3 separate regions of the Homo sapiens genome follow, and regions 1 and 3 are each reported to be linked to region 2. Evidence: microRNA targets listed by miRTarBase, many of them from high-throughput screens and not tested one by one. Region 2 holds a microRNA gene; each other region holds the end of a gene's coding sequence.

Evidence for each region. Region 2 holds the annotated microRNA hsa-miR-552-5p (GUUUAACCUUUUGCCUGUUGG, at 5,010-5,030, opposite strand). A microRNA usually pairs through its seed, bases 2 to 8, with sites in the 3' UTR of a target mRNA and lowers its output. Matches are read on the target gene's strand: a 7mer-m8 pairs with bases 2 to 8, a 7mer-A1 pairs with bases 2 to 7 and ends in A, and an 8mer does both.
Region 1: the mRNA of MAGEA12 is a reported target of hsa-miR-552-5p. Seed matches in the 3' UTR shown: 7mer-A1 at 6,136-6,142.
Region 3: miRTarBase lists NSMF as a target of hsa-miR-552-5p. The part of its 3' UTR that is shown has no 7-base or 8-base seed match.

Annotation. Positions count from the first base shown.
Region 1 is chrX:152,736,566-152,743,686 of GRCh38, reverse strand. MAGEA12 (MAGE family member A12) reads right to left here. Exons shown (of 3, transcript NM_001166387.4): 3 at 6,018-7,121. The coding sequence ends at 6,581. It also overlaps the pseudogene CSAG4. Among named protein-coding and RNA genes, the nearest start is that of MAGEA12, 6.4 kb to the right of the region's middle.
Region 2 is chr1:34,664,641-34,671,761 of GRCh38, forward strand. It overlaps MIR552 (microRNA 552), which reads right to left and starts at 5,054; the gene lies at 4,959-5,054. The region is part of intron 1 of LOC105378641 (a long non-coding RNA gene); the gene reads right to left.
Region 3 is chr9:137,443,098-137,450,218 of GRCh38, forward strand. NSMF (NMDA receptor synaptonuclear signaling and neuronal migration factor) reads right to left here. Exons shown (of 16, transcript NM_001130969.3): 13 at 7,079-7,121; 14 at 6,826-6,928; 15 at 6,502-6,577; 16 at 4,473-6,394. The coding sequence ends at 6,297. It overlaps MIR7114 (microRNA 7114), which reads right to left and starts at 6,989; the gene lies at 6,929-6,989. RefSeq lists an enhancer at 6,172-7,121.

The DNA of each region.
Region 1 (7,121 bases), not on the chromosome of region 2:
CAGGAGCCAGGGAAGGAGAGCAGACAGGACACCCTCAGCCCATGAGGGTAATCGGGAGGATCCAGCACTGATATGGTTTGATTGTTTCCCCACCCAAATCTCATCTTGAATTGTAGCTCCCATAACCTCCACGTGTCATGGGAGGGATCAGGTGGGAGGTAATTGAATCACAGGGATAAGTTTTTCCCATGCTGTTCTCGCCGTAGTAAATAAGTCTTAGGAGATCTGATGTTTTCACAAAGGGCAGTTCCCCTGCACATGCTCTCTTGCCTGCTGCCATGTGAGACATATCTTTGCTCCTCCTTCCCCTTCTGCCATGATTGTGAGGCCTTCCCAGCCATGTAGAACTGTCAGTCCATTAAACCTCTTTTTTTTATTATTATAAATTACCCAGTCTCAGGTATTTCTTCATAGCAGTATGAAAATGAACAAATACAAGGGGAGAGCAATGGCCAGAGTCCATGAGAGAGACCGTATATGAAACCAAGTCCACATTTCCCCAGGCAGGCTGGCATTCAGAGGTCTGAATCCAGAGTTCAGCCCGGTGGGGGCAGGGACCTGAGGGAGAGAAGGGGGAAGAGAGGAGGGAGGGCAGGACAATGAAAAGGAATAGGCTTAGGAAATTCCAGCACCATCGTCACCAGCTGGAGGGGGCCGTGTGATCTGAATGGGCAGGCCTGTTGACTGAATACACCACGGTTGTGCTAGACACCCAACCCTCCCTCAGAATCCCTTTCCCTCTCTCACGAAGAGTATGGCTGGCTCCCTGCATCATTCTGGGTGAGCTCCCTCTCTCCACCACTCCAGTGGTCGTGTGCACTTTTGCCAGCGTCCCAGGGCAGGAAGTTGTCTTCAAGCCTGCTGCGGGCTCCTGTTTTATCTCCTGTGGACCCTCCATAGAGCCTGGACTATGTGAATGGGTTGCTGATTGATGAGCAACAACCAAGACAGGCCAGGAATATTTATGAGGTGTAAAAGGTGGCAGCAAGGCTGCATGGAGGGGAAGTTGGAGGAAGAGTGCCCTGAGACTAGTAAGCTCCTACTCTGTAGATGAAGGATTGGCTGTGGACATGCAATGAAAATGATCCAGGTGGTGACCATGTCTCAGATGGACTCGTGAGGCTTCTGAGCTCTCGGCACATGAGGAGACAGGTGTACTGGGGCACTGATCACAGGCCTGTGTTGCCACCAGACAGGGTCTGGGGTAGAGGGTTGGCCCAAGCTGTGTATGTGAGCAGGTTGGATGGCAAGGCAGTGGAGTTGGCACCCTTCCCTGTTAAACTGATGGGGATGTGTTTGGTCCAATAGAGGAAGCGTCATGCACCATCCTGTTGGAAGCATCCTTACCTCCATGATAAGTGTTTGAGCCTGGGGAGAAGGTGTCTGCAGTGACCCTCTCCGTGGTAGTTGCCATGGAATTTCTGAACTCAAGTGAGCACAAGTGAAAGAACTGTGGGTTTCTTCATGTAGGCAGGAGGCCCAGGAAGGGCAGACTCCATAATTTGAATCAAAGAATTCCCATGCCAGGTGATTTCATTCATTCCATGCACTTATTGATTCCTACAGAAAACTTTTATTCAATATATGCTGAGGAAACACCAAGTCAACAAAACAATAGAAAGTGGCAAAGCCCTTAATTCAGTCTGTAGGGAGTGGGGGGAGATGGTGAGGAGGTGTGAATCGCCCATCTGAGCCAGGGAGGCCAGGAAGGCAGAGCCAGACTTGGGGACTGGCAGTGTGCAAGAAAAGGAGAGACAGCCTGTGTCCAGGCCAGAAAGCTCTCCTTCTATGACAGTATTGGTCTGGTTTTCCTCCTGGATACTGCCTGTGTCTGAAAGCAACTGCTGCTCTCTGTGCCTACCTGCCTTTGTTAACAGGGAAAATGGTCATGGTCAGCGGATGCTCACTTCTGCTCACCTTGGATCACTTCTACTGAAGAGATGGTTTGACAGCAAGCAGACAGGAAGAAACTTTTGGGGAGGATGAATATATTTTTCACCTTCACTGTGGTTGTGGTTTGATGGGACTAAATGTTTGTCAAAACTCTTTGATTTGTTTCTCAGTACTTAGGAGAAAAAGTAAGCAGAAAACCAGGAAGGATATAGATGACCTGAAAAGCACCATTAACTACTCTGACTAAATAAAACAATAAGAAAAGCACCGCATTCAACAATAGCAGAATAAACAATCCTCTCAAGTGTGCATGAAATATCTCCCAAGATAGATGGTATTCTGGGCCATCAAACAAAGCTTACAAATTGAAAAGAATAGAAATAATAGAAAGCCTCTTCTTAGACCATAATATAATAAAACTCAAAACCAAACACCAAGATATCTGAAAAATGCCCAAATATTGGAAATTTTAAAATAAGCTCCTATATAACCTATGGGTCAAAGAGGGAGTCCCAGGAGAATTTTAAAAATACATTAAGTTGAATGAAAATAAAAATGTACATACAAAAAGTGGGATTCTGCTAAAGTGTGTCCTTGAGGGAAATATATAGCATATTTTAAATGTTTATATTAGAAAATGAAATCTAAAATCAATAACCATAACTTTCACTCTAGGAAACCAAAGAACGAAGAGCAAGTTGAATTTAAAGAAATTGTAGAAGATCCCACCTCCCTCCCTTCTCACACTCCCACCTCTTCCCCCTTACTCCCTACCCCTACCATTTGAGACACACAGACACACACATCATTTTACAACATGTTCATTTTATTTTCGTCACCATGGGGTATACCCTTTGGGGTATAAAATGTACTCTACACCCTGTTGGCTATTTTTCTGGGGTTAGACCTCTGGAGACTTTTCAGGTAGCCTTGAGGTTTCTGGCCTTGCCCGGGAATTACTGGCTGCCCAAAGAGAGACTGGAGAAGGTGGTGGTCTCCTTGCCCTTGTGGTCCTACTGTGTCTCATTTTGATTGAGTTCTTTTGGCTGGTCGGAGTGGCTGGATAGTGTTGGCCCACTCCATTCCTCAGGTTTTTTTGAAGCGGTGGTCTTTTAGGGAGAGCCTTTTGTTCCTGGAACTTCCTTGACGGGTCCCTGTTCCCTTCCAGGTTGTCTTGGCAACCTGGAAAACCAACCAGGAGATCAAAGAAGGGCACTGGTTTGGGGAAGAGGATGGAGAAGGGGTGAGAACAGGGGCTTCATAGAGAAATGGGGCAGGGTGGGGTGGGGGTTGTGCCAGGGGAGGACAGGGTAGGATTTAGAGCTTCGGTGGGCCGTTCACTTTGATAGGGCTTCTGGGCTAGGGTTGAGAGGATGCTTTCCACTTCCTCACCTCTTTGGTGTTGGTGGGTGGTTGTTGGACAATGGGCTGGAGGCTCGTGGTTTCCTGGACATCTTCACCAGACCAGTGTCTCTCAACAGTCTACTCCAGTCCACCTGGTCTCTCCATGCCTCCCCCAGGACAGTGAAGGCAGGCCAGCAGGCTAGAAACTCACAGCGCATTTTTATGTTAGTCTTGTGGTAGAATTCCTTTTCCAGGAAACCTTGGTCTTTTCTCTTAACACCTTCAACTAATTGGATGAGGCCTATCCACATTATGGAAGTTAAACTGCTTTACTTAAAGTCAACTGATTGTAAATGTTGATCACATCTACAAAATACCTTCACAGCAACATCTAGACTACTGTTTGACCACACAGCTGAGCAGTATAGCCTAGACAAGTTGACACATAATACTAGCCGTTGCACATATCTTGCACCATACAAAAATGTAACTCAAAATGAGCCACAGACTTTATATGTCACAATTACATTGCTTTTTTTTTCTAGGACAAAACAAAAAAAATTGTGTTACCTGAGGTTATGTCTTAGCTTAGGCTGCCATAACAAAATGCCATTGACTGAGTAGCTGAAACAACAGAAATTTATCTTTTTTCAGTTTTGAAATGTGGAAGTCCCAGATCAAGGACTGGCGGGGTTGTCTTCTGGTGATGGCCTTATTCCTGGCTTGTAGATGGCCCTTTATTAATTTGTCAGTTCTTGGCCTTTCCTCTGTGTATGTGCAGAGAGAGAGAGAGGAAGAGAGAGAGAGAAAGAAAGAGAGAGAGAGAGAGAAGTCATGCAGGCACAAAAGTACTTTCTTCTGTTTCTTCTCCCTTCTTACAATCACACTAATTCTGTGGGATCAAGCTCCCACCCTTATGGCCTCTTTTAACATTAATTACTACCTTAGAAGCCTCATCTCCAAATACTGACACCCTGGGGCTGAGGGTTTCAAAATATGAATTTGGTGGAGGACATAAGCATTAGCAAAGAATAGACACATAGATTAATAAAACAGAATAGAGCTCAGAAATAGACCTGCACACACATAGTCAGGTGATTCACAACAAAGGCAATAATGGTGAAAGTACAGGTTTTCCAACAAAAGGTGCCTGAACAATTAGACACCTATACACAAATTATAATAACCTAGACATATCCTTACATATTGCACGAAAATTAACTCAATACATCATAGACCTGATGAAAAATACAAGAACTATACAACCTCTAAAAGAAAACGTAAGAGAAAATCCACATAACTTTGAGTTTGGTGATGAGTTTTTAAATTCAACACCAAAAGCATGATCAAGGAAAGAAAAATTTGCCAAGTTGATTTTATTAAAATAAAAATTTTATGCTCTTCAAAGGACAATGTTAAGAGAATGAAAACAAGCCACAGTCTAGCAGAAAAAATCTGTGGTACACATATGTGATAAAGAACTTGTCTCTACAATATATACGAATTCTTAAAGCTCAATGATAGAAAAAATGAAAATAGTCAAAGATCTGAACACAATCTACACAAAAGAAGATACACACAGGGCAAATAAGCATAATAAAATACTGAGTGTCCTTTGGCATTAGATAATTGTGTACTAAAGTGAGATACTACTACACACCTATTAGAATGTCTAAAACCCATAAAAAAGCAAAACAAAACCAAGACCAATTGCCAGTGAAGATGTGGAGCAACAGAAACTCCGGGCGTGGTGGAAATTAGAAGTTTAACAAATGGCCGATGGCTGTTATTTCTAATATTTTTAAAGCCTAGGCATTAACACTCTGGGACTTTGTTGTTGTTGTCGTTGTTCTCCAGGAGTCATCAGAAAATATACAGCTCAACAGGACATGGGATAATTAGGCCAAAAAGGAAGCTTCACCTGTAAAATTCAGTTAAGTATTTCCTCTTAGAGAATGCACTTCAAACTTTGTGTGTGCGGGAGTTTTGCCCAGCCAGGTGCAACCCAAAACTCCTAGAATGTGTGTCAAAGACCAATTCCTTCCATCTCTCCCAGCTGCTTTCCCACCCAAACCACTATTTTCATCCATTTTGTTACCATCCAAAATCTGGCCCACGCCTACAATTGGTCAAATTGCACTTGAGATAACCTAGTTAGAATGCCTTTTTAATGGAGTCAGCTCTGGCTCTCCCTGCCTGGCAGAAAAGCACCTGGCCAGTGGCTTCTGGGTCACCCTTCCTGGGAAATTCAGCCTTATCGCTCAGGAAACCCTTGCAGATGATAGATTTTCATCACCTAGATCTTGGGTTGTGTTCAATAGCAGTGGGACAAAAGCACAGGACACCTTCTATTCCAGCCCCAGGTGGAGATTCCTCTCTGTTCATCCCCCATCCGAAATAAACTACTCAGAGTTGCTTTCCATTCCAGGCTTTTCTCTCATTCACTGAGAATCTGTGGGCCCTGGACCCACCCAGCTTCATCAGAGTCAGCTCCTTCAGAAGGAACTGCAGGTTCCCAAAGTCCAAAATGCCCCAGCTCAGGGCATTTACACTCCACAACTCCCTCCTGGAACCCCACACCCTCACCCTTCTCTTATATTTCCTCTACATCTTACAGGACTTCTTGCCACCTTAATTATATGACTGCAGGTCCTAGGCTCTACAACCCTACGGGTAGGCGTGAGTCTTGCTTACCTTAGCATCCGCACTACTAACGCAGAGCCTTCCACAGAGCAGATGCTGAGTGAATGGAAAATAAATGAGCCAGTGAACAGGAAGAATTATTTATTCAGATTTAATTTCTCTTAAATTCTCAAAGAAGCCAAGGATATCCAGGTATCCATGCTTTTTTTTCAAATTTACAGAATAGAGTGAGGTATAAGGCAAGAATTAAGTATCTTTTAACTTCTTGAGGTCTTTATCTCATGTATTTTACTGCTAATTCTTTCACAATTCTAAGCACATACTTTTTCCACTGCTGTTATTTGTCACAATTCACAAAATGGAATGGATTTCCCAATCTGAATAAAAAACAACACTCTTACTCCTAAACTATATAAACAGCACTATGTGTGACTACTGTCATTCATAAACTTGGATGCTGAAGTTCATTCAACCATCCGTTAAAAGGAACATTTGAACAATTCCAACAGGAAACAAAGATAAATCTCAAAGTCATCCAATAGAACAGAAACTCACTACTAACAATACTGACTGCTCTCTTCAAAGAGTGAAGAATGGGCCTCATGTCACACGAGGCAGTGGAAACTAATGGATGGGGCCTTGGAAGGTGCACTGGCCCAGACCCCCTCCCACTGGCCCTGGCTGCAACTCGTGCTCAGACTCACTCTTCCCCCTCTCTAAAAGCCCATTCATGCAGGGGTGGGTAGGAAATGTGAGGTCCTCCACTGATCTTTAGCAAATGGTGCAGGACTTTCACATAGCTGGTTTCAACGAGGGCCCTTGGACCCCACAGGAACTCGTAGCATGCAGGATCACTGCCGGGGACCTGCCGGTACTCCAGGTAGTTTTCCTGCACCAAATCTTGGGTGAGCAGCTTCCTGGGATGCGCAAAGACACTGTCCTCCCTCCCATCAGATGCCTCCAACACACTCAGCTCCTCCCAGATTTTCTCCTCAGGGGCACAGTCGCCCTCTTTTGCGATTATGGCCAGGACGATTATCAGGAGGCCTGTCTTGGGCACGATCTGATTGTCGCCCAGCAGGCCATCGTAGGAGAGGCCCAGGCAGGTGACAAGGATGTACAAGTGGCCGATGCGGACCACTTCCACCACCTCGATGCCAAAGACCAGCTGCAAGTACTCGGAGGCTTTGCTGAAGATCACAGGAAAGAAGTCCTGGAAATTTCTGATGACACTCCCCAGC
Region 2 (7,121 bases):
CCCTATTCTGGGCATTGCGGGGAGACACACAGAAAACCAAAGACTTCCCTCACTTAGAAGGGAGAGGGTAGAGACACAAGCCTAGCCTCAGTTGCTCTTGGTGTGATGCTGGAGACACTGCTGCCTTCAGAGAGCTCCCAATATGCAAGAGCCTCACAGTTCACAATGGAGGCATTGGTCCAGACCCCTTCCCTCTGACTCATCCATCCCTCAGTCCTTGCTCTTTGCTCCAAGCCTATCTGTGTCGGGCTGCCAATCTAAGGTGACTCAGGAATATCTCAGGTTGAAGACACACTCCCTCTTCTTCCCATCCCATGGGGCTTTCTGACTCCAGGCTTTGGGGAAACAATGCTCACTGGGACCTCATCTTCTCTGTCCCATGTAATTCCTGAGATATCTGCTCATCAGGCTAGTGTCCAAGCTAGTTCTGCTCCATGGAGAAGCCTGACTTTTACTCATGATTGTAGAGAAGCATCGAGAGCTCATTCCCATGGCCTACCCTACAAAGAGAAGGAACAATAATGAGAGAACACAAGTAATCAATCAGCATGAGAGCAGATTTCTTGTTGGCATTTATGTTGTCGTTATGTTTTCTTCATGGCAGCAAGGTTCTACAGTGGCATTTCTAAGGCTAATGGAAGAACATGGGGTTGAAACAAAAATACTAGTCTTTGGGGCTCTGAGGCTCCAGGGATTACTGTCGTTTTATTCAGAGTAGCTCCCCTCTTATCAGTTTTATATATTGTGGTTCCATGTGAAATGTTATTTAAAAGTGGTTCTTCCAACTAGACAAAGATTTGAGAACCACTGCTGCTCTGCTTGCTACCATATACAAGTCCTGTGCCATCACTTAAAGTGCATTATGTGACATTATAGATGTCCGTTGTCAACTTGGTGTCACCATCACATACATCATGCCACATGCCCTAGTATCTAAGTGAGCATGTCTTTTGATTTTATATTCAGTTTGTTTATAGCATGTTTTTCAAATTACAAAAGTAACACATGTTTGATTATAACAACTGAAACATACAATAAAAAGATGGTAAATTGTAGCGCCAGTCCCCACCCATGACCTCTCCTCTGATGTAAGCAGTGTTAATATCCCGTTATGTAACCTTCAAGTGGACATCTATCATGAACAATTTCAGCTGTCTCTAAAATTACTGATGCAAGAATCTGTCACCTACGATAGCAATTGGTATGAGCAAGGCAAGATATGAATATATATTTCTTGTTTTCATCCACAAGTTAACTAATTTCCAGAGGCTGTCTGGGTTTCCAACAAGGAAGAGCAACCATAGTTGACCAGTGACCATGCAGTCTAAGTGGACCAACAGATGGAAAACCCTGTCTCTGAGAGGGGTGCCCACGGTCACAATTAATGTGGGGCTATAGTTCTGGGATCGAGCAAACATTATATGTATGAGGCTGTGAGCAGTGTTCATGCACCTGGATCTCCAGGTGCTTTTTCAGAGATGGTGAAGGCTTGTGATTACGGTCTGGGTGTAAATCCCACTCTGCCATTTTTTGTGAGTGGTCAATTCACCTCTCTAAACCTCAGTTCACTCGTCTAAAAACTGGAAAGAAGAATAATACCCTATGTATCAGTCAGAGTCCAGTCAGAAACACTGAAGCCAATTCCACATAGTCCAAGTAGGAAGGGCTTTAATGAAGGGAATTAGAAGCTTCTACAGCTGTTAGAAGACCTGGGAAAGAATAGCTGGGGAAGCCACCACTGAGCACCCAAGGACACCAGTACAGCAGGCATCCAAGGTCTTACCCAAAACCCCTGGGAAGCTCTGCTGGCCTTCTCAGGCTGCAGCAATGAAGCAGGTAAAACTCAAGTGGAAGGTGCTTCAAACCTCATGTCTGCCTATTTATCTACCTACCTGCAACTAATTCTGGAGAATCACAGCCTCGCCACCTTTCCTACTTTCCAAACCTTCCCTAAGCACCTCTTTTGGCAGACTCAAACCAGGAGCCATATGGCAAAAGGCATTCTGGGAAATGTAGGTCTCATCTCCTCTTCCACAAAGCAAGGGACACCTGATGACAGGTGGTGGTGATGCCAGATGAACAATCAACAACCTAGCACAACCTACTGCATAGGCTTTTTATGAGATTAAATGCAATAATGCAGAGACAAAGTCTTAACAAAGTGCTTGGTGCACAGTTAATGCTTAATAACTGGCAGTTATTATAATTCTTTTTATAATTTTGATTGCAGAAATGGTGGCTTTCCACCTCGCCCAGCACACTCACTCCATTTCATGCTACAGAAAATCCTAGGCATTGGGGTTCCTGTCAAAAGATACATTTCCCATTGTCTCACACCACTCAGCAGGTCCCATCACTTCTTTTTCCGATCCGATTATAATGGCAACATTTGTAAATTGCTGAACCTCTAATTCCCCATAAGCATGTAGCCTGACTCAATGTATTCAAATCAATTACACAGAAAGGCATGAACTAAATTCTCTACTTCTGTATCCTGGTTTTACATTTCATAGTGATTGTACTTGAAATCACCACCAAAAAAAGAGCATTATGCTACAGGTGTGTCTTCTTCATCATAAATCAATCAAGGCATGAGGAGATCCAATAATAACCCTATTTATGAACAAGCAGTTCTAGCCTCACAATTACTATCACCAAACATTTCAGAATAATGAAACGTTTCCAATGAGAATTAATTTAAAAAGACCAAAATGCATGCAAACTTACTTCCATGAAACTTAAATTCAAACCATCCCATGGGTAACCAAATTATACTTGTAAAGAACTCAAATTGATTGGACTTCAAAATTCAAAATTCAATTGTAGAAAATAAAATAGGTTATAAACCGCAAAGGCCTTTGCCAAGCCATCCCCTGCTCTGAAGCACAATCCAAACATCACATGGTCACACGTCAGTGCTGCCTGCAAAGAAATCCATTTTACAAACAAACTTAGGGTAATAGGACCCAGATCTGTAATGCCTTATCCTGATTAATGACGGACCCACACACTGTTATATCCATGGTCACCAAGAGAAAAGCTAACATTCTTGGAAGCAGCATTACTCTTAAAATTGCAATAATCTCCAGGGAAAATAACCCAATTTAAACTTATTCCCTCTTTAGCTAGAATGTGTTTAACTCTTTTAAACTTGTTCTTTGCTGTTACCTGTGTCCTTCAAAGACATGCCCCTTGTTATTCTACGTAACTCCCTTCACTCAGACCTTCAATAATTGCAAAAGCAATTTAACCCCCAGTTTACCATGATACTATTAAAGAGTAAAATAGTCAGTAGCCCAAAGAAATTCTTAGGAAGCCAACACTTTCAATTGGCATGCTTTTTTTAGACCCTAAATTCATATGCATAAATATGCATTCGTTCAGTCTGTCAACCCACGTCTAGGTAATGGTTGAATAAGTTAGAGGAGCTCTCTGACGTCAGGGAACTTACATTCTAGTCAGAAGAGGCAGATACATGAATCAACAAACAAGACCATTCAGGATGCATACGCATTGATCTGAAAGTCTCTTCACTTCACTTGCCTGAGCTGAGGTGGGACCACAATCTTTGAAGAACCAAAGAAGGAGAGTTCTCAGAAGAGGTTATAGCAAGTGCAAAGGTCCTGTGGCAGGAAAGAGCTTGCCAGGCTCAGGAGGTGGAAACATACATTGCCAAATACAAATACACACACAACATATACACCAACACACACCAAAGACTTTCTACAAGGTTTCATTAAATACTGAGTGGGTACAAAAGATATTTATAAAACATGTCTGCTGTACAAAGAATAACAATAAAGGGAACATTCGTGTATCCCACCATCCAGTTTAGAAATGAAAGCGTGACCATCAAGCATGACCTCTTTGATCTGATTGCCTCTCTTCGTAACCCAGAGAAATGCTAATCTGAATTCATTCTCCAATGTTTTTTTTCTTTATCACCTTATATCCTGAACAATATATTGTTTAATACGTTTTTGATCTCTAAGACTAGAATCTTGCAGTTATGTAGGTTTGTATGGCTTGGGGTTTTTGTAGCCAAGTCAAAGCTATGATAAATTTGTTTCTGAAATTTTTGAGTGAAAGAGTTAATAATTTTTAATTAGAATTTGTTATTGAGATAATTATAAATTCATATGCAATTCTGTGTACCATTTATCCAGTTTCCCCCAGTGGTAACTGATATGGTCTGGCTGTGTCCCCACCCAAATCTCATCTTGAGTTGTAGCTCCCATAATTCCCACGTGTTGTGGGAGGGACCCAGGGGGAGATTATTGAATCACGGGGGTGGTTTCCCCCATACTGTTCTCATGGTAGTGAATAAGTCTCACAAGGTCTGATGGTTTTATAAGGGGAAACCCCTTTCACTTGGTTCTCATTTCTCTCATATCTGCCACCATGTAAGACGTGCCTTTCACCTTCTGCCATGATTGTGAGGCCTCCTCAGCCATGTGAAACTGTAAACCCATTAAACCTCTTTTCCTTTATAAACTACCCAGTCTCAGGTATGTCTTTATCAGCAGCATGAGAAGAGACTAATACAATAACATTTTTAAAACACTAGTACAATATCATAACCAGGATATTGACATGATACAGCTCACCAGTCTTACCCAGATTTCTCCAATTTACTTGTATCATTTGTGGTCTGTGTGTGTGTGTGTGTGTCCATCACTAAAGTCAAGACATCAGCCAGTCCATCACCATGAGGATCCTTCATGTTGTGCCTTTATAACCACCTCCCTCCACCTCACCACATTCTTAACCCTCAACAACCACTAATCCCTTCTCTATCTGTAACATTTGTCATTTCAAAATGTTATATAAATGTAATCATACATATGTAGCCTTTGGCATTGACTTTTTTCACTCATAATAATTCCCCAAAGATTCATCCAAGTTGTTTGTAATCAATAGCTTGTTGCTTGTTTATTGCTGAGTAGTATTCCATCCTGTGTATATACCACAGTTTGTCTAACCAGTCACCTGTTGAAAGGCATCTTCAACCAACAGGCAAAAGGTTAAACAAACTGTGGTATATTTGAATGGTTAAACAAACTGTAGTATATTCGACTATTACAAATAAAGCTGCTGTGAACACTTGGCTATTGCAAATAAAGCTCCCCAGGTTTTTGTGTGGACATAAGTTTTTATTTCCCTGGGATAAACACCTGAGGGCGCTACTGCTGGGTCATAGGCATGCTGGGTTTTATAATTAGCTGCCCTCTGTTTTCTAGGCTAGATCTACAATTTTACATCCCATCAACAATATATGAACAAGCCTATTTCTCTACATCCTTGCCAATGTTGGGTGTTCTCATTTTTTTTTTATTTTAGCAATTCTGATAGATGCATAGTGATATGTTATCATGGTTTTAATTTGCATTACCCTTATGTTGAACATATTTCATGGATTTTTTTTGCCATTTGAATAACTTACACTATGGAATATCTATTCATGTGTTTTGCCCATGTTCTAGTAGATTACTTGTTTTCTTTTTACCATTGAGTTTTGAGAGCTCTTATATAATCAAGATTCTAGTCCTTTTCAGGTGTGTGATTTGAAAATATCTTCTCCTACTCAGCAACTTGTCTATAGCTTGCTTTTTTACCCAAGATTATTGTCCTCAGTTTTATCTATGCAGATGGATTTTTTTGGTTTTGTTGCTGTATCATTCTACTATTGTTTTGTATTTTGCTGTATCATTATACTATTGATGGACATTGCTTATTGTTCTGCTTTCACAAGCCATGTTACCATGGGCTTTCTTGATGTGTCCACTGCTGCACCTATATAAGTTCTCTAAGGTATAGACCTAGTAACATTTCTGGATCACAGGGTATGTGCATTATTAATGTTATTAGATAATGCTGAATTTATGCCAAAGAAATTTCATCACTTAGAACTGCCACCAGCAGTGTAAAAGTTCCTATTACTCCATGCCTTTGCTAGCACTTGATCTTATCAGACTTTTTTTCAATTTTAACAATGTAATGGGCATATAATGATATCTATTTCATTTGTATTTCCCAAGTTACAAATAATCATACAAATAAATACAAATAGTTCCTTTACTTCCCTGGTGAAACTGAATATTCAGTCTAGACATTCAGATTTCCTGTTTCATTAAGTGTCTATTTAAGTTACTTTGCCCATTTTCGTATTGAGTTGTGTATTAGTCTGTTTTCACACTGCTATAAAGATACTACCTGAGACTGAGTAATTTATAAAGAAAGGGGTTTAATGGACTCACAGGGAAAGCCTCAGGAAACTTATAATCATGGCAGAAGGCAAAAGGGAAACAAGGCACATCTTCAAAAGGCAGTAGGAGAGGGAGAGAGAAAGAAGGAGAAAGAGCCACTTATCAAACAACCAGATCTCATGAGAATTCACTCACTACCACGAGAACAGCACGGGGGAAACTGGCCCCCTTGATCCAATCACCTCCCACCAGGTTCCTCCCTCTGTTGGCAGTGGCCGCTGCCATCATGCAGGCTGCAGCAGGGAGGCACCACCCCAGGGCTGCACACTCCGTGAGGCAGGCAGGAGCTGGTGACAAGTGGGAGCCCCACCCCTTTTGAGTTGGCAAGGCGGGAGTTCCCTAGGTGCAGCTGTGGCCACCCTCCCAAGCGCAGGACCCGAGAGTCTCTGCAGTCTTCACTCTTGGGGGCCTCAGAAGTCCCCCCCAACCCCCTGGCCCCACAGGCTCTAGAGTGTCTGCTCCTGCTGCCTGGCCTCTCCACTCCTGGCACCCTACTCCAATCTTGGAGCCAGGTTGGGGCCTATCCTGGGCACTGGCACAGCCTGGCCAGGTGTGCACATGCTTGGGGCAGTGCTGACATGCCAGTACCCTGCTACCTCGGCCTCCTCCAGAATTTGGGCAAAATGAGCATGAGAGGAGAAACTGAGGGGGAGGGCTGAGGGTGGCTTGGCACTGGCCTGCAGGTGCCTTTTGGTGCAAGCAGCCTGGGCACCATAGGCACCATGGATGGCAGCAGGAGGCAGACAGGCTCCTGGATTGAAGGGAGTGGATCCCTAGTAAGGCCCTACCTTTAGGCCAGGGATGGCCTGAAGGCTGGGGGCTGAGCAGTAAGTCCCGCAGATCAAAGTGGGGACT
Region 3 (7,121 bases), not on the chromosome of region 2:
TTATGTGACTACAATTATTCATAGTACTTCCTGGTTATCCTTTTAATGTCTGTAGGGTCTGCAGTGCTAACCCTCCCATTCCTCATATTGGTAATTTTGTCCTCTGTGTCTCTCATCAGTGTTGCTAGCTAGAGGTTTATCCATTTTATTCATCATTTCAAAGAACCTGCTTTTTGTTTCATAATTTTTTCTTTTTGGTTTTTGAATTTTTAAATTTAATTTAATTTAATTTAATTTTTTTGAGACGGAGTCTCTCTCTGTTGCCCAGGCTGGAGTGCAGTGGCCGGATCTCAGCTCACTGCAAGCTCTGCCTCCCAGGTTCACGCCATTCTCCTGCCTCAGCCTCCTGAGTAGCTGGGACTACAGGCATGTGCCACCACGCCCAGCTAATTTTTTGTATTTTTAGTAGAGACAGGGTTTCACCGTGTTAGCCAGGATGGTCTCGATCTCCTGACCTCATGATCCGCCCACCTCGGCCTCCCAAAGTGCTGGGATTACAGGCGTGAGCCACCACGCCCGGCCGGTTTTTGAATTATTTTAATTCTGCTCTTACTTGTATTTCCTTTCTTCTGCTTGATTTGAGCTTATATTGCTCCTCCTTTTCTGGTTTCTTAATGCAGAAGGTTAGATTATTGACTTGAACCTTTCTTTTTTTCTAATGTAAGCATTTGTGCTATGAATTTCCCTCTTAAGCACTGTTTAGCTATCTCTCTCAATTTTTGATATGTTGTATTTTCATTTTATTCAGTTAAAACATATACATATATATAAATTTTTTTTTTTTGAGACGAAGTCTCACTCTGTTGCCCAGGCTGAAGTACAGTGGCACAACGTAGGCTCACGGCAACCTCTGCCTCCCAGGTTCAGGTGATTCTCCTGCCTCAGCCTCCCCAGTAGCTGGGATTACAGGCATGCGCCACCACACCCGGCTAATTTTTTTGTATTTTTAATAGAGACAGGGTTTCACCAGGTTGGCCAGGCTGGTCTCGAACTCCTGAACGCAGGTGATCCGCCCACCTCGGCCTCCCAAAATGCTGGGATTACAGGCGTGAGCCACCGGGCCCAGTGGCAGGATCATAGCTCACTGCAGCTGTGAACTCCCTGGCTCAAGCAATCCTCCCTCCTTAGCCTCCCAAGTAGCTGGGACCACAGGCATGCACCACTGTGCCCGGCTGATTTTTGTTTTTGTTTTTGTTTTTAGTAGAAACAGGGTTTCACCATGTTGCCCAAGCTTCTCTCAAACTTCTGTGCTCAAGTGATCCATCCGCCTCGGCCTCCCAATGTGCTAGGATGACAGGCGTGAGCCACTGGGCCCAGCCTTTGCTGAGACTTTCTCTTCTGACATTTTAAGTGCTCACGATGGCTCAGTTAGGCACCGCTATAATAGCTACTTTAAAGTCTTCAGGCCGGGCATGGTGGCTCACACCTGTCATCCCAGCACTTTGGGAGGCCAAGGCAGGAGGATCACTTGAGGCCAGGAGTTCAGGACCAGCCTGGTCATTCCAGAACCACCACTGGGGGGCATACGTGTGACTAGACCAGAGGGTGCCCCAAAATCTTGGAGAAAAACTGACCTTGGACCAATAGCCACTGAGGCTGAAACTAAAACAGCAATGTTCACCATAGGATAAAAGGAAGACTCCGAGTCTCATATTAAGTAAGATTCAAAACATTACAAACCAGGCCAGGCGTGGTGGCTCATGCCTGTCATCCCAGCACTTTGGGAGGCCAAGGCACGTGGATCACCTGAAGTCAGGAGTTCGAGACCAGCCTGGTCAACATGGTGAAACCCCTGTCTCTACTAAAAATACGAAAAATTAGCCAAGCGTGGTGGTGGGTGCCTGTAATCCCAGCTACTTGGGAGTCTGAAGCAGGAGAATTACTTGAACCCGGAAGGTGGAGGTTGCAGTCAGACGAGATTGTGCCACTGCACTCCAGCCTGGGCAACAGAAAGAGACTCTAAGAAAAAAAAAAAAATTACAAACCAGAATTCCTCCACACCCAAAGAACTGTGAGAATCCTGACCAGCAGGGAAGAGGCCATCAGCAGACACCAAGGTTGAGAAGGCGTTGAAATGACAGAAAGACTGACAAAATCTGTTTTTTAAAATTTTACTCATTTAAAAATTTTTTCTTGAGACAAGGTCTTGCTCTGTCACCCAGGATGGAGTGCAGTGGCGTAATCTTAACTCACTGTAGCCTTGAATTCTCGGGCTCAAGTGATCCTCCTGCCCCAGCGTCCCAAGCAGCTGACACCACAGGCACGCACCACCACCACACCCCATTAATTTTTTTTTTACTTTTTGTAGAGACAGATATTCGGGCGCCCCCAGTCTAGCCACACGTATGCCCCCCAGTGGTGGTTCTGGGAATGACCAAGGTTGGCTGCTGAAGTCAGTTGTCTGGGTGAGTCAGAGTGAGACACACAGACACACTCACAGGCACGCCTGAGGGTTGGGGGGCGTTGGGGGTGGTTTTTGGGTACTTCTCAGCTCCTGGGCTCCCCAGACCTCCCTTCCCAGCCCTCAGGCCAGAAAGCAGGGGTGACAGAGCGCACAGAGACGTGGGAGATTTGGCAGCGGGAGGGGAGCTGACCCGCCTGCCTGCAGGCACCAGGACAGGTGCAGGGAGCCATCGGGGCCATCTTGCCCCTTTCAGGGACAGGTTTTATGTTTGCTGTCTCCTGCCCCCACAGAGGCAATGCTAACAGCAAGGGTGTGACCGCCACAGCTCCCTCCACCATTCCGATCATGTCTACATTATTGATTCCTGCTCACGGGGGTTTTACCTTACAGACAGGAATCACACCTCTGCTTGCCCTTAGACACTCCTGCACCCTGGCGGGAGGTCTCCACACAGCCCCCAGACCACACCCCAGGTCTCAAGGGTGGCTGCTCTGCTGGGTGCACATCCGGCCACGGGGCCACCCGGGGGGCCACTTGGGGTTGTGTAGTGAGCGTGGAAGTGCAGACCTGGGGGTCTGCACTTGAGAGCAGGGCAGGCAGGTCGCTGGGGCAGGCGGGGGCCTCCCCCGTGCTGTTCCCAGCCTGCCAGGTAGTCACGAGAGTGCATCCAGGCAGGTGGCAGGAGACATTGCACATCGATGTGAAGCGTGACCCAGTCACTTGGAACAGCTGGACCTGTTGCATCTTCCTCCTTAGCAATAAGCCTCGTGAGCATCGGATCCTTCCAGAAAAGCCATTGTGCGATCGGGCCACACCCAGATTAGCGGGCACAGCACAGCGGGGCAGTAGACACCCTCAGAAAAGGTGCCAGGGGGCGGCTGGGGCTGGACGGGCTTGTGCACTCATCAGTCACACTACTTTTAAGAGCTGTTACCAGATTACCTTAAAAAAAAAAGCTGTAACAGGCTGAGGAGGCAGGAGGATTGCTCGAGGCCAGGAGTTTGAGACTAGCCTGGGCAACAGAGTGAGACCCTGTCTCTACAAAACATAAAAGAATTAGCCAGGCGTGGTGATGCCTGTAGTCCCAGCTACTCCGGAGGCTGAGCGGGTGGGAGAATCGCTTGAGCCCAGGAGGTCAAGACAGCGGTGAGCCCCAGCCTGCGCGACAGATCAAAACCCTCTCAAATTGAAAAGGGGGTTACCTCGTCGCTTTCATTGGCCTTTCCATGATTCCTGATGGGATGAGGACTTTCTTCATGGAATTACCAGCCAGTTTCCTGCTCTGCGAATGATTTCTCCACATCTCTGCTCACTTTTCCATATCGGTTTTTGTCATTTTCTTTAGCAACATATAAAAACTCTTTAAATATTAAGGACCTTAATCACTCCCATGTGTGGCAAATATTTCTTATTTCTTCCCCAACTATTTCTGGCTGCTGCTGTTTTTGTATTTCAAGGGAGGCGAGGGCGGGTGCAGCAAAGTAGCCGAGGTTGCCCTGGTCACCGGCCCCCCGCCCTGGCCCAGCCTGCCTCCACTTGGGGCCACCTCCTTCCCCGTTGGCACTTCTGCGTCTGCTCCTGTGGGGCCACCTCCTTCTATGTCTGCTCCTGGGCCTGCTGGCTTTGACGTGTCTTCCTCCTTTCACTTCCCCCGGTGGTCATGGCATGAGGAATGGAACCTCATGGACCATACATAAGGCCCCCCAGGCCTTACTCACTCCAGCAGACCCTACGGACCGGACTGTGTGGGACAGGCATGCGGCTGGCAGCAGCCCCAGGAGCCACCTGACGGGTTAGGACTGCAGGGTCCCTGTGGCTGTTCTGGGTCTCAGAGCTCAGGTGACGGACAGATGTGCCTTTGGAGCAGTGCAGTGTGTGGGCACGTGGCGACCTCGCATGCTGTCCTACTTTGAAGAGTGCCACCCTTGAGGCCTGCACGGCAGCGTCAGCAGATTCCAGGCGGTGGCGACTTGTCTCATCAACTTTGCAGAAAGGAGACTCGGATCCCCCATGATTTCACGATATGTCACTTTCAAATAGTAACTGAATAACACAGAGTCTACAGGCATTTGGTATTTACCTAAAACTTTATACACTCAAATTGGCACCAAAACCTGCCCCCTCCCGGGACCCCATCTAGAATGCCCTGGAAGAGCTGGAGGTGGCTGACGGCTGTGTGACCACCCCCAGCACACTGGGCCTCAAGCCTGCCAGGCTGTGCCAGGCTGCGCACCAGTGGCCCCCTGACCCTAGCCCAGCTGATACGTGCTGCTCTGTCCCCCAGCCACGGGGCAGGGAACCAGCTGGCAGCCAGCCTGGCTGTGCCCAGCAGCGGTCTGGGCCCTGAGGACACCTGAGGTTGAGAGAGTGGCCCCCATCTGTGGCCACACTGCTGACTGCACACACAGTGTGGCGTGAGGGACATACAGCCCTCTCCCTGGTGCCCTCAGGCGGCAGGGGGAACGGGCTGTCTCTGCTGTCCCCTCCAGACCCGGCGAGGCCCCCCTCCGAGACTGCAGCCTCCCCCCAGCCCTCCTGCAGCTCCTCTCCGTCCCCTCCTGTGCTGGTCCCCCTGGCTATGCCCTGTGGGGTGGTCTAGTGGCCTAGCTCCAACTCTGTCCAGGCAGGAAGGCCCTGCAGCAGTGACCTCACAGGAGTGGGCCCAGAAGCTGGGCACAGGAAGGCCCCTGGAAAGCACTGAGAGGACAGACCCACGCGGCGGCCGCGGTGGAGGATCAGGTTTAATGGTCACTATGAGGGTATCGTACATCGTTCCAAGCCCGGCCCCCGCCCCAGCCCTCCCTCAGCTGGGAACACAGCCAGGTGCCCTCAGACCCCTGGCTCTGCACAAGGGGGGCCTGCCCCCTCGCCCCAGCTATATACACGACAGCCCATCCTGCTGGCCGTGGACAAAAGCTGGGAGCTCCTGTGCCCAGTCAGGAGCCCCTACAGTCCACCAGCTGCGCGGCCGGGTCCAGGGGCCCACTGTGGTGCCAGCGAGTTTCTCAAAACCCAGGGCCCAGCCCCAGCTGGGCCCCTGCCAAGCCCCAGGCCTGTGTGCTGGGATGGAGCCTCCACACTGAGGCTGGTAAAAGCTGAACTCAACAGCAGCAATGAGAGTGCTGGGTGGGCTTGGGGGGATGGGGAGCAGGCCCCACCCAGAGCCTCCTCTGAAGGAGGGGACGCTGCGCCCTTCCTTCCTGCTGCCCAGACTGCCCCTACCGGGTCCGGCGCCGGCTGAGGTCTAAGTAAGCAGGGATGGGGGGTGGCAAGAGGAGTGTAAGTGAAAGCACAGACAGTCGGAGACTCGGCCAGTGTAGACAGACCCAGAGACTCGGCCAGTGTAGACAGAGCCAGGCTGGGCAGCCCGGCGACGCTGGCCCCACGCACACGGGCCACCCTGGTGCTGGTGATCGATACGGCAGGGAGGGGGTGGGCAGGGAGGGTCCTGAACACATGTGGGCTGCTGGGCTGCTGGGCCGGGGTGCCTACACTGTAACTAGCAGCATAGTGCTTAACTAGTTAACAAGAAATGCTGCTTCCCTTTGAATTGTTTCGGGGGTGTAGAAATTGCACTTATTTCTATGAACCCCATGGAGGGATGCCCACAGCTGAGCCTCCAGGCGAGGCATGGCAGGTCAGTGCCTGGCCGCTGAGCATCCACGGGCCACAGGGCGGGATCCTCCCGGCCCCCAGGGACTGCAGCCTCTGCGGCCACGGGTGCAGCGAGGACCGGAACCCACAGGGGGAACCTGAGCAACGTCTGAGGTGCCCTGAAGTGGCTCCAGGCGAGACCGGAGCCACACAGTCCCGGGGAGCACGAGGCGGCCCAGCCCCAGGTCCCGGTGCAGAGGGAGTGGCCTGATGGTGACTGGGCGGAGGCCTCTGCCCCTCACAGGACGTCGTCAAAGTCCAGCAGCTTCGAGTGCTGGCGGCTCTTCCACAGGCGATACAACCGGAAGTCAAAGTACGTCTCGATCATCTGCTTCCCTGGGCGGAGCGGGGGCAGGAGGCTCAGGCCTGGCCGGCCCTGGGGATCCCACCCCACCGTGGCCCCGCAGTGGCTGCAGAGCTTCGGCCCAGCCTGGGTAACTCACCTTGGGCTGAGAGCTCCAGGGGTGACTCGAAGGTGACCCTATAAGGAGTCATGAGGGTCCTGAGGTTCTGGAACAGCTGGAGGAAGCGGGGTGCCATGAGTCCGAGGCAGAGAGATGGGGAAGGAGGAGCGGGGAGGAGATGGGGAGCAGGGCCCACCCTCTTTTTTCAGACCCCCCAAACCTGGCTGGGCTCAGGCATAAAGGATTTCTAGGGGAATGCCCGGGGGAAGGAAAAAAAATGCCAGGAAACATGGAAGGCTCTGCCCTGTCTGTCCACGTCGGGGGTTTCCAGAGGTCTGGGGTGGGGCTTGGGGGTCACTGTACCTTCTCTCCATTGGGGTTCCCCAGAATGTAGCAGCCCATGATGTGGATGACGTTCGGCTCTGGGTTCACTTTGCTCATCAGGCGGCTCAGCCGCTTCCAGAAGCTGGTGGAGAGGGGTGGGTCACCCAGTGGCAGGGGACAGGCACCCCACTCCACAGAGCGGACCGTGGAGGAGGGGCTGTGGGGGAGGGACATGCCAGGGCCTGGACTCTGCCTCCAGCCCTCCCCGCGCCCAGGGCACCCGGCTTCTCACTGAATCATGTCCTCTTCCTTCTCCACTTTGGCAAAGGTGGCCA